Regions from separate parts of the Homo sapiens genome. Here region 2 is linked to region 1. The links come from fine-mapping of genetic effects on gene expression. A gene starts in region 1. The other region holds a variant in brackets. All regions are shown on one strand. Distances are between the middles of the regions.

What was found. PIP is the estimated chance that this variant, and not a neighbour inherited with it, causes the effect. A credible set is the group of variants that fine-mapping cannot tell apart.
Region 2: its variant is the best candidate, but not a certain one, in a credible set for the expression of FXYD6 in blood mononuclear cells (TOPMed, PIP 0.58).

What each region holds. Positions count from the first base shown.
Region 1 is chr11:117,873,592-117,878,962 of GRCh38, forward strand. It overlaps FXYD6 (FXYD domain containing ion transport regulator 6), which reads right to left and starts at 3,067. Exons shown (of 8, transcript NM_022003.4): 1 at 3,001-3,067. FXYD6-FXYD2 (FXYD6-FXYD2 readthrough) reads right to left here and starts at 3,067. Exons shown (of 10, transcript NM_001243598.4): 1 at 3,001-3,067.
Region 2 is chr11:117,798,737-117,804,107 of GRCh38, forward strand. It overlaps a transcript of DSCAML1 not described here. Among named protein-coding and RNA genes, the nearest start is that of DSCAML1, 4.2 kb to the left of the region's middle. The variant A/C (reference allele first, on the strand shown) is at 3,114.

The sequences.
Region 1 (5,371 bases):
TCTTGACTGGTTTGCTTCCCTTAGGGTGCTCAGAAGGTGATTTGTTCGAAGGTGAATATTGGGGGGCTGCCTGGCACAGTCTGCCATCCAGATGGCGGCCGACTAAGTCCAACAAGGTTGGGAGGAAGAGAGGAGGTGCTCTTATTTAGGGGAGATTTCGGTGGGTGGACTCCCCCGAGGCTGTCGGGAAATTTCCAGGGTCTAGGAAACTGCCCTTTCTCCCCCATCTCCTTGCCACAGCTTCCAGCCTCGCCTTCCAAGAAAACATAGTGAAGCAGGCTCCTCGGTTGTACCCGCCCACTAAGGGACCCTCACTTTGGAAGGGCGTCCCAGTCACCAGCCGACCAAAGGCTCTCCCTCCATAGGTTTCCATCAACCCACCATCTCTGATGGTGACTGAGAAAAGAAAGCAAGGGTTGCAGGACAGGCAGTGTGAAGGCCAAAATCCTGGCCGAGGAGTTAGAAGGCCTCAGCGACTACTGGCCACGTGACTGCTGAGCCTCAGTTTCCCCCACTGTGTTCCCACTGGATGCTCCCTCAAGGCCTCTTCCGGCTCTGAGAAACCTAGGATTCCGATGTCAGGGATTGTGTCTCCCTCCTCACCTTCATGTCCCCAGCAATTAATACACAGTAGACACTTAAAACAGTTCTTTGAATGATTGAATGAAATCGGTCCTCAGGTCAGTCTGAAGATCCGATGGAAGCCAGGAAGGAAACGCTTCCCCCAGGCGCCTACCGTCTGTCAACCATAGAAGCCACACGTCTTGGGAGAACCCTGGCAAGCCTAGAGCCCTTTGCACACCCGCTTCCTCTCCTAGATGCACAGATCTGTTTGGAGGAGCCAGGGGGGAAGCAGGAAAACGTGCCAGGAAGAGAGGGTGGCCTGAACCCCAGGCAACGGCGGGTAGCCCTAACTTTCGCTTTCTTGACTCCTGTGGCCCCTCTCCTTCCCTCTTTCTGGTTTCCCTCCCCTTCCTGCCTCCCTGGCCTGGCCTCCTTGGCTTTCCTGGGACAGTAACCACTTTTCCTTCTCTCCTTTGTTAGGGCTCAGAGCCTCCGATGGTCCCAGAGCTGGCCTGATCCTCTGCTGGTGAGGATGACTCCCAGAGCCTCAGGCTTTCTCTGGGTCAGGGAAAAGAGCAGCGGCAGTGGAGAGATTGAAATTCTGGTCAGTGCCCAGCTTCTGGAGCCCAGCACCTGGGAATGGCTCTCGTTAACACCTGGAGCTCCGGACTGGGGCTTTGAGGAGGAGGGAAAAGGGCTGCGCCCACTCTTTATCCAACCTTCCCTTCCAGGTTTAGGGAAGGGGCTCCTCTTTTGAGGGAATCTGGCAGTGCCTTTCCCTCCACCTTCCTCTGCAGGGTTCCCAGGGAGATGTTAGGGTTTTCCTTCTGGGCTTCCTGAGCCTCCATCTCTTCCCCTCCACACCCCTAGGGAGGTGGCTGGATAAGGAAGGAAACTGCCCTCTCTCTCCCCTGCCTCAGCCCAGCCTGAGACTTATTTAGATGTACTGTGTGTGTGTGTGTGCATGCACAGTGCGCATGTAGGGTGTCAGTGTAGCATTGTAGCTGGTGTGTGGTGGTGCGGTATATATGCGGTGTGTTTGGTGTGTATGTGTGTATAGGTATGATGTATATGTATGTGTGGTGTGAGTGTGAGGGTGTGTTGATTGCGTAGTGTGGTATATGTCTGTATGTGTTTGTGGTGTTGGTGATGTGCAGTGTGTGTGAAGTGGGTGGTGTGAGTAAGGGGCCACTGCAATTGGGTGTAGGAGCCAGATATCTAGGTCTCCTAGCCAGGGATAACCAGTATCTAGGCAACCATACTGGGGGGAGGGGAGGAGATATGGAGGTGAGGAATGGGCAGGAGAAAGAGGGAGGCTGAGAAATGGAGGAGTTTCCATGGCAACGACCAGGCAAGTCACGTGCAAAAGGCTAAGTTGCGGACGTAGACATACACATCCATAATATGAGGGTGGCTGGATCCCCAAAGGGGGCTCCTTTCAGAGAGGGCCTGAGATGCCCACTGATCCATCTTCAAAGCTGGAAATCTTAGCCCAGCCAGACAGCACGAAGCCACAGAGACAAAGGAAGTAGTGGCAGAGAGCACACTGGTGGGGAGAAGCCTCCAGTAGCCACGGTCCCGCGAGCGTGCAGGCTTGCAGCAGGTGACGCGGCAGACCCATGTTTCCAGCGAGGCTGCTCCCAGCTCCCACCCTCGGGTGCCTCCTCTACCAGCCACCACTTGTAAGAGCCAGAAGCCAGCGCTGGGAGCTCCAGGCTGCACACCCAACTCTCCACGGAAGCCCGGGAGACACAATAGGGGAGGCTCTGCCAGGGCCAGCCCTGCTGGGGAAAGGGGGCAATGGCGGACCCCAGGGCCCCCCGGAAAGGAAACAGGATTGGATGGATAAGACAAGAAGGAGGGAAAAAATGATGCACTCTCATGAATCCCCGAGCGCTAGAATCCTTCTTTCCCTGCGCCCCCATCCTGTGCCCACTGCCCAGCCCCACCTTCCCCAAGCACCAAACCAGCAAGTTCCATTTTGTGTCGCTCATAAGTCCACACTCACACCCAGCCACACGCCCTCGTCCGTAATTCCCCACGCTCCACCAAGTGTCCACAGCTTCCAAGTAACAAAGGGAAAACTCCTCATGGATAAAGGGTGGGCGCAGCCCTTTCCCCTTCTCCTGAAAACCCTGACCCCAAGCTCAAGGCAGCACCGAGAGCAATTCCCAGCCACCAGCGTCACCCCCAGCGCCACAGCCTGCCTCCCCTAGAGGCTCCTCTCTCTTCCGACGCCGATCTCCTTGTTTACATCCCCAGCCCGGTTTCCCGCTGCCCAGGCGGGGACCGCGGCGCAGCTGACCGCGGAGGACCGCACACACCCACTGAACACACAAAACCCGGCGCTCCCGGCGCTCCAGAGATCGGTCCCCACCGAGCCTCGCCCCTCCTCGGAAAAAGGAGCCAACTTTGCCCACCTCCCCAGCCGCCTACCTGCACAGCCGGTCCCCTCCGAGACTCCCAGGAGGACCCGCCGAGTCCCGAGGAGCCTGGGAGTGGCGGGGCTGGGGGCAGGGCGGTGGGTGAGGCTTGAGCTGCTTTCCCGCCTCCCCTCCTCCTAGGAGTCGGGCTGGCTGGGAGGCGCGTCCTGCGGGGGCGGGGGGGGGGCTCGCTCGGGGCTGGGCTCGGGGACAGCCCACTCCGTGCTGCCGTCCGCTGGCTTCTGGGTAGCGGCCGCGCGCAGACCCCCTCTCCTCCTCTCCCTGTCCGTCCTCCCGCTCTGTGCTCGCGCGCGTCCTCTGCTCCTCTCTCCTCTCGAGGGGCGGAGAGATTTTTCCAAAGGGCAGTCAAGCTCCGAGAAGCAACAGGAGACTGCCGCCGAGGAGGCGTGCAAGCGCCGGAGCGGATTTGCCATCAGCTGTTGCTTTTCGGTTTCCCTCTGGTTAGGGTGGGAAGGGAGCAAGACAGGCACAATGACAGACCTGGTGTCTCTCTGCAATAGTAAACCCCGAGGAACGGAAAAATAGGAGAAAATAACCCAGCACCAGACACAGCAGCCCACGTTAATTGGGAGCCTTGGTAATTAAGGGGAATGTGCACCAAAAGCATGAATGGCTGTGTCGTGGGCGCAGGAGCCAGCTCCAGTTGTAGTTGTCATTTTCAGCTAGAGCCAGGTGGGGAGCTGGGGGGATGGTCCTTACCTGAACCATAGATCTGCTGCCTTGAACCCCCTTTTCAAGCCCCATCCACCTCTGGCCCTGCCAGGAGCAGTACCACCCCGTCCTCAGCCCAGTCCCCAAGAGTCAAAATTCATGATGACGAACTTTGAATGTGAAGATGTAAATAAATCCTGGCTCGGCAACCCTGCCTGTGACGCGACTTGGAGCATATCTCTGCACTCAGCTCCTGAGTCTATTTCCTCACGTGGGAAAATGGTGATTAGAGACTGACCCCATGGGAGGCTTAGCTCATAGTGAGTGCTCAAGAAATTGGCTCTTACTATTAGGGGCAGAGCTTGTAGGAAGGGGCAGAGGCCAGGCACAAGTGTCAGTAGCCAGGAGCCATGCTGAGATGGAGGCTGTCCAGCCTCAGTCAAGGTGTGTGTATGGCCGAGCCGGGTGGAGGGAGGAGCTACTGAGAAAGGCTGTGATTGTCCAAGCCTAGGTAGGGCCACGGAGAGTTCCTTACAAACCCCAAGCCGGGGATGATGGGTACTGCTAGGAAGAAACCTAGCCCTGCCTCTGCTGCCCTCAGTTCTGGGCCTGTTTTCTCATTTGGGAAAATAGGGAGATGGACTAGATGATCCTGAGGTCTCTTCCAGCTCTGCCCTAGATGATCTAATTATTTTAATAAAAGGTCAGGTCTCAAAACCCCAAGGCAGGAAATATACATGAACTCAAGAAGACTTTGGAACCAGTAGGGGAACCATAAATAGCTACTGAGAAAGAGCACCCAAAAAGCCTCCCCTCAGGGGATAGTTCTGGCCCCTTAATCATGGGACCTGGCTGAATGGATGCCACTCTGGCCCAGTCCTGAACTCCCTGGGGTTCCTGTGAATGCTAAAGCTCCTTCTCCAAAGCCAGACTCAAATCTTGCCTATTTGCGTGCCTAACCCTTTGCCGTTCCTGTCTTTTCCTCTATAAACTGAGGACAGCATTCCAACTGTCGTTTTCCCTTTTCATGTATTCTAGGTGGCAGATTTAAAACCACATCCCTTTCTAGGCCCATGTCCTTAGGCAGGTACATTCATCCCTCCAAATGCCCTTGAATCCTGCCTTTTGGCCATCTCTCTGTGCTTTTTAGAGCACCTACTAGTGATGACACGTCAAGCCCAGGCTTTGCAAGCCTATTTGGGAAAGGATAGTTCAGAACTCCAAAGCCAAGCCACCTTCTGGTTCAACCCCATTTCCAGCCAGAGAGTTCTGAAGTGTTTGGCCCAGTGACTTCCCAGGTCCCCCTACCTAATGCTGACCAGCCCAGGCTGCAGAGGGATAACAGGAACTAAATGTGCATGAGAAACCGCCATGGCTTAACTCTCAAATAGTGCTTCATCACGTTCCATCCAAGGGTACTGCTGGAAGAATTTGGGGTGTTACAGCTACAAAGCAGCACGCAAGCTTGTTCTGGGGTGAGTCACATCTCCCTTCTAGCAGGAAAATAAACACATCTACCCCCTGTGAAAAATGTGGGCATTCATAAAAAGAGGTCGCCAGCTGTTCCATTCTTTCAACCACGTATGGACAGGAGGAGCTACTCTTCACTGAGACCTGGGCCAAGATCTGAGGATATACTGTGGAGAGGAAAGATGTGGTCCCTGGGTGAGATAGAGATTTAGCAAATGTTCCCATGAATAAACGTGTAATTA
Region 2 (5,371 bases), 75 kb before region 1:
CTCAGCATAATGTTTTCAAGGTTCGTCCTTTAAACGGGTGAGAAAATCGGGGCTTAACTTGTTCAAGGCCACCAAGGTTGTATCAGAAGCAAGACTAGAACCCAGGCCTCCCGACTCCAGAGCAGAGCTTGCTCTATAAGCTGCAGCATCCCTCGGTGGCTCAGCTCTTCATGCAAAATCACCACCCTGAAACAATTTGCAGGAGGTGTTTTGTCATCTGGAAACACAGGCATAGAACAGAGACGGGGGGACAGACTGCAGGGGGTGTTTGAGATGACCCAGACCGATCTTTTGCTTTACAGATAAGGAAACTGAGGCCCAGAGTGGGGAAGCCATGAGCCTTCCCCGAGGTCACGCAGGGAGTGACAGAGCCCTCACGTTTCCAGTCTTCTGTCTTAGCTCCCATCTCTCACCGCCCTCAGCCTGCTGGCTTATTCTTCTACCATGCCCCCTCCCTTCTAAAGGGAACGGTCATTGAGAGGAATCCAGTTATTTAAAACTAAGCCTATTGACCCAGAGCACCTGGTCAGGTCATGCCTAAAATAAACCGCTAAGGCAGACAGGATGAAAGGGGCTGCTGTCTGCTGGGAGGGGATCTGAGTGGGCCTGGGGTAGCGGCACAGCTGCTCCGTGCCTCACACGCTGGAAGTAGCGGTGGACCCTCTTCTTTGCATCCACCCCAAGTACCTCCTACAACCTGAGTGTAGGAGGCTTTATGCTAGTTATACACAGGGGGCTTTAAAGAACCACAACATGTGTGTTACCCGAAGGGCGAGGTCATTCATTGTGCCGGTGACTGCAGTCTGGCTGTCCCGGGAGGAGACATATACGTGGAAATAAACGGGTGGTCAGTTGGGGAGAGCAGACCTGGGGACCCCCTCTGGCAAAAGGAAGCTTTCTAATGTCATGGTTAAGAGCCTGGCTTTGGAAACAGCAGGAGATGAGTCCTCAGCCCAGCTCTGCCACTTGCCAGCTGTGTGCCTGGGAAATGTATGTGTGCCAAGCTGCAGTTTCCTTACCAGTGGAATGGGGACATCCCCAGCATCTGCCTTGGAAAGTCGTAGCGAGGATTAAATAAGACAAGCCCCATGGCTGACGCATAGTGAGCACAGGTAACTACCATGAATGGGAACAGCTTTGCTCACAAGGACCTTGACCTGTGGGAACTGGGAGGAGGGAACAGCTCCACTGGGGGAATGCTGGGACGATATTGTGCCTTCCATGCTGTGACAAAGCCAGAGCCAAGGAGCTGGGAATCCAGGAAAGGGGCTGCAGAAACACGGAAGGTGCACACTGAGGCGGAAGAGCCTGGAGAGATGGCTAACAAAAGAAGGACCTGAAAAACAGGCAGGTCAGGCCTCATGCTTTTTGTGTTTCCCATTGATTTTGTTCTTCCTTAGTATCTAGGGAAATGTCTTTGAAAATGACAGGTTGGCTCAGATGTATTTAGAAGTCTCCTCTTCGACAGGAGTTGTATTGGGGTGGGCAAGCCAGCATGCCAGGAAATCCCAAGGGAAAAATGAAACGCCGGGGAAGAGAGTCAGGCGGCGTGTTCTACCCCACGCCCACCTTAAACCCTGACAGTCCCCTCCCCAGCTGACATTTTAGAGGGGCTATATTTTGATAGAAGGGACAGTTCCCAAAATTATATGGAAAACTTCACACCCACACACAAATATATTCATGCCAGAGTGAGAACAAACACAGTTGCCCAGGCAAACATTCATGTGTACAGGTAAACATAAACACCTAATGACAGGCACACCTGTGCTTCAATGTGATTTGAACCCAATCCAGAAATTCTGCATTGGCACCTATGCATATGCTCCATTTTTTTAAGCCTCAAATTTGTGGGATTCCTTTCTAGTAGGGACACACTACCCATTTAAAAGCAGTGATCAGTTTTAATATTTTCTTGCATCAGAATGCTGGGTGATGATCTGTCTGTATTTTGGCTTTTGTGCTTTTGTTTTTGTTTTTTTTAAACAATGCCAGTTGAAGCAGCTATATGAAGTCACTGGGAGCTGAGCCCTCTCCAATTCAGGTTAATCATGGATATTTAGGGGGTATTATTTTGCCATGTTATATTAAGACTAGAGCCATCCTGAGAAACAGCAGATGTTTTTATTGTTTAACTCAAACAATAAGCTTATATATTTTGGATACTTTTCTTCAAAAACAAAGGCATAAAATTATTTTAACAATGGCTTCATATGCCCTCTGGAATTCTTTGACAACTTGAGTATAAACAGGGTTTTCATAAAAGGAATCAATACTGAACCAGGTCTGTGTGAAAAACTTAACTTTTGGTATTATATAGCTAATTCAAGATTGACCTTCTTAGTACTTACTTATCAGTTGGGGGAGGAAAAAACAAGGATCTCCCTGCTTCCCTCCCCAAAATTTATAATTGATTTTAATATTATAGAAAGAGTTCTCATCTACAAATCAGAAATCCTAGGTTCTTGTGTCACCTCTGTCTCCATAGCCAGCTGTGTTACCTGTGACAAGTCACCTTGCCTTTCTGGACCTCAGTTTCTTCACCATTGAGGTGAAAGAGCTGGGCTGGAATGATCACCAAGATCCCTTCCTAGGACCAAACACAAGGTAAATGCAAACAAATATGCCCATTCCCCCCTCCTACCCCACATAGGTGTATAGTGTGTACCCACAAATGTGTGCAGGCAGAGAAACAGAAGCTTTTATGCACAGATATTCAGAAACTAATAGGCACAAAAAATTACACAAAATAAACAGTTTTGGCTTCAAATATATACACATACATCTAAAATACCATCTTCTTGAGATGAGATGAATCAGTACAATTCATAGACTGTGATGCCTATATATAAAAAAATATTATGTGTCATTATACTACCCAGGTTCTCCTTAAACCAAAATTCTGTCTGCTGGGCTCAGAAGATGTCTAGGTATGCTTGCCACTTACTCTCTCATCATTTTGGATGATAATATTATGGCTCTAAGATCACTGGAGCAAAGGGTCTAAAGCCCTGGGGCTCCGCCTGTACAGATGCAGTCTCTGGGGTCCCATTGCCCTTGTTCAGGCTGCTGTCTCAGCAGTGACACCAGGATGGTTGGTCAGGGGCTGCGGA[A/C]GCCCCCAGCAAGGCAGGAGTCCCCTGAATAACTGTGGCCTCTCTCCTGCTGTTCTTTCTCAGCTCACAACTCTGAAATCGGTTGAGAAGCCAACCCAGAGAGGTTCCATGTAGTCCGGATTCGACAGAGCTGAAGCTCATTGTCACATTTCTCTCTGGGGAGCAGTGGGGTGGAAGGTATGGAAACTAAGAGAGATAGGAAAAAAAAGAAAGTGCAATGAGCAGAGCTAAACTTGCTGGCTTCCCAAGTCTTCCGGCATTTCTTCTGGCCCATGTGTCACTCACAAATGTGCTTATCAAATTTTATGAAAGTGTCTTCTACACTGGAAAACCTTCACCTTTCTCAAGTACCCAGTGCCCCCCTTTTTCACCTGTTTAAGGCTTCCCATTCAGCAGGGCCTGGTCAGGCACCCCCAGTTTTCCCTGACCAGGCCTCCTCTGGTCTCCCACTGCCTCAGACATCTACTTGGCCCATGGGTCTCATCCCTTTGTCTAGAATTGTGGCTATTTAGGCATGTGTCTGACTTGTCTCCTCTTCTAGACACTGGGCTCCGACCCTTTCGATTTGTACCTGCAGGCCCTAGCCTGGTGCCTCCTGGCTCTAGGGGTACACTCAGTAAGTGTTGATTTAATGACCAGATGGGCTCATTCTTATAAGGTAGCAGATATCTGATTACAGCCTCACGTGCCATGCCTTCCAGAGAGATGTCCCTTAACTAGGATCAAAGCCTTAAGCTTGAAAGTTCTCGTATTGGAGTTTCTCGTCTCTAAGAGTGAGCATTTGGCAGGACATTAGACCCCGCAGGAGTGCTGACCCCTAAAACCAAAGAAGTCTCAGCAGTTCCTGCTGAGCCCGCATCACTGTGGTCTTCACAGTTGTCATCTTGACCTTGTAGGCAGCGCCTCTAGGTTCCAGAGGCTTTATGTTTTCGTCCATTTCTGATTCTCACCTAAAAGGATCTGGATACATATGCCAGAATTGTTTTGATCATTATATAGATGAAGACACAAAGTCAGAGGAGTCCCAGAGGCATATTTGGGATGTTTAATACCATGACACTTACACAGCTCAAGCTTCAGATTCCTTTAGGGCCCTAGTAATGTGTTCACATGGTCAGATATGAAAACACTGTAGAATAATAGAGTTTAACTACTGTCAATCACAGCTGCTACCCTTTTCTGCTCTGGCTTCTCGGTGGGTCTGGTGAACATTTTGGGGGGATCTGACTCTGGCTTGGGATTGGTGGAATGTATTTATATGGTTCACAGGCCATGCACGTACTTCCAGGATAGGGAATGGCTTGCAGGAACACTCCTATCACCGACTGGGCCAGCTCACTGCGCTTTGTGACATGAAGTTGCAGAACCAGAAGTTGTATCACAGTATAACTGTGGCCTCAGGTGCCTGCACCAGGGGTGTGTGTGTAGCATAGGAAAGACAAGGTTTGAAATGCATGGAGCCAAAAGCCAGCTTATGTAAAGCTGTGAGCAGAAGTAACGTAAAAAAATTTTTTTTAATTTAGAAAGCATTTTTGAGGTGTGTCAGTTAATACAAATATTATGTTATCTGTCTGGATTTCATGATGGCATTTGTCAGTTTTTTCAAGATTTGTAACTTGTTGCAATTTCTTTTTATCTTTCTAAATTAATAATCACATTTGATTATTAATATATTAATGATCATATTTGTATCTAATTTTGTATTCATAATTGTGTATTGTTTTCCTTAGTGAGGCCTAAGCTTCCAGCCCTCAATGGTCTAAGCTTCCAGCCCTGCAAAACCTGAATCCGTCCCAGGAACTTTCCTTGGGTTACACTGTGGCTGGGGACCAGGTTCTCTGGATTCTGGTCAGGGCTCCCCGCTTGCCTCAGAGGTCTTAAGTCTGTATGTCAATCATGTATTTGTACAGTGCTGTTCACACAGAAGCCCCCTTGGAGAGATTTTCCTCCCCAGAGAAGAGAAAGTCAAGGCCCAGGCCCATGGTGGTGACCTTGACTTAGATGATGAAAGTTCTCTTCCTAGAAAGTCTGCCCATTTCACCACAGGCTGGACTTGCCAGTCCATGCGCTGGAGGATCTCAGGATGGGAGACAACTTGGTGCTGCCGTAACGCCTTCCACGGTCTCTCTGCAGGGCAGCATCCCTCCTGTCACTGTGACTGGCCACCAGCATTGTGGACCGAGACCCTCCTCAAAGTCCAGGAGTTGCTACAAAACACTAGCAAGTCCTCCAGCCACTCTGAGCAGGAGAAATGTGCG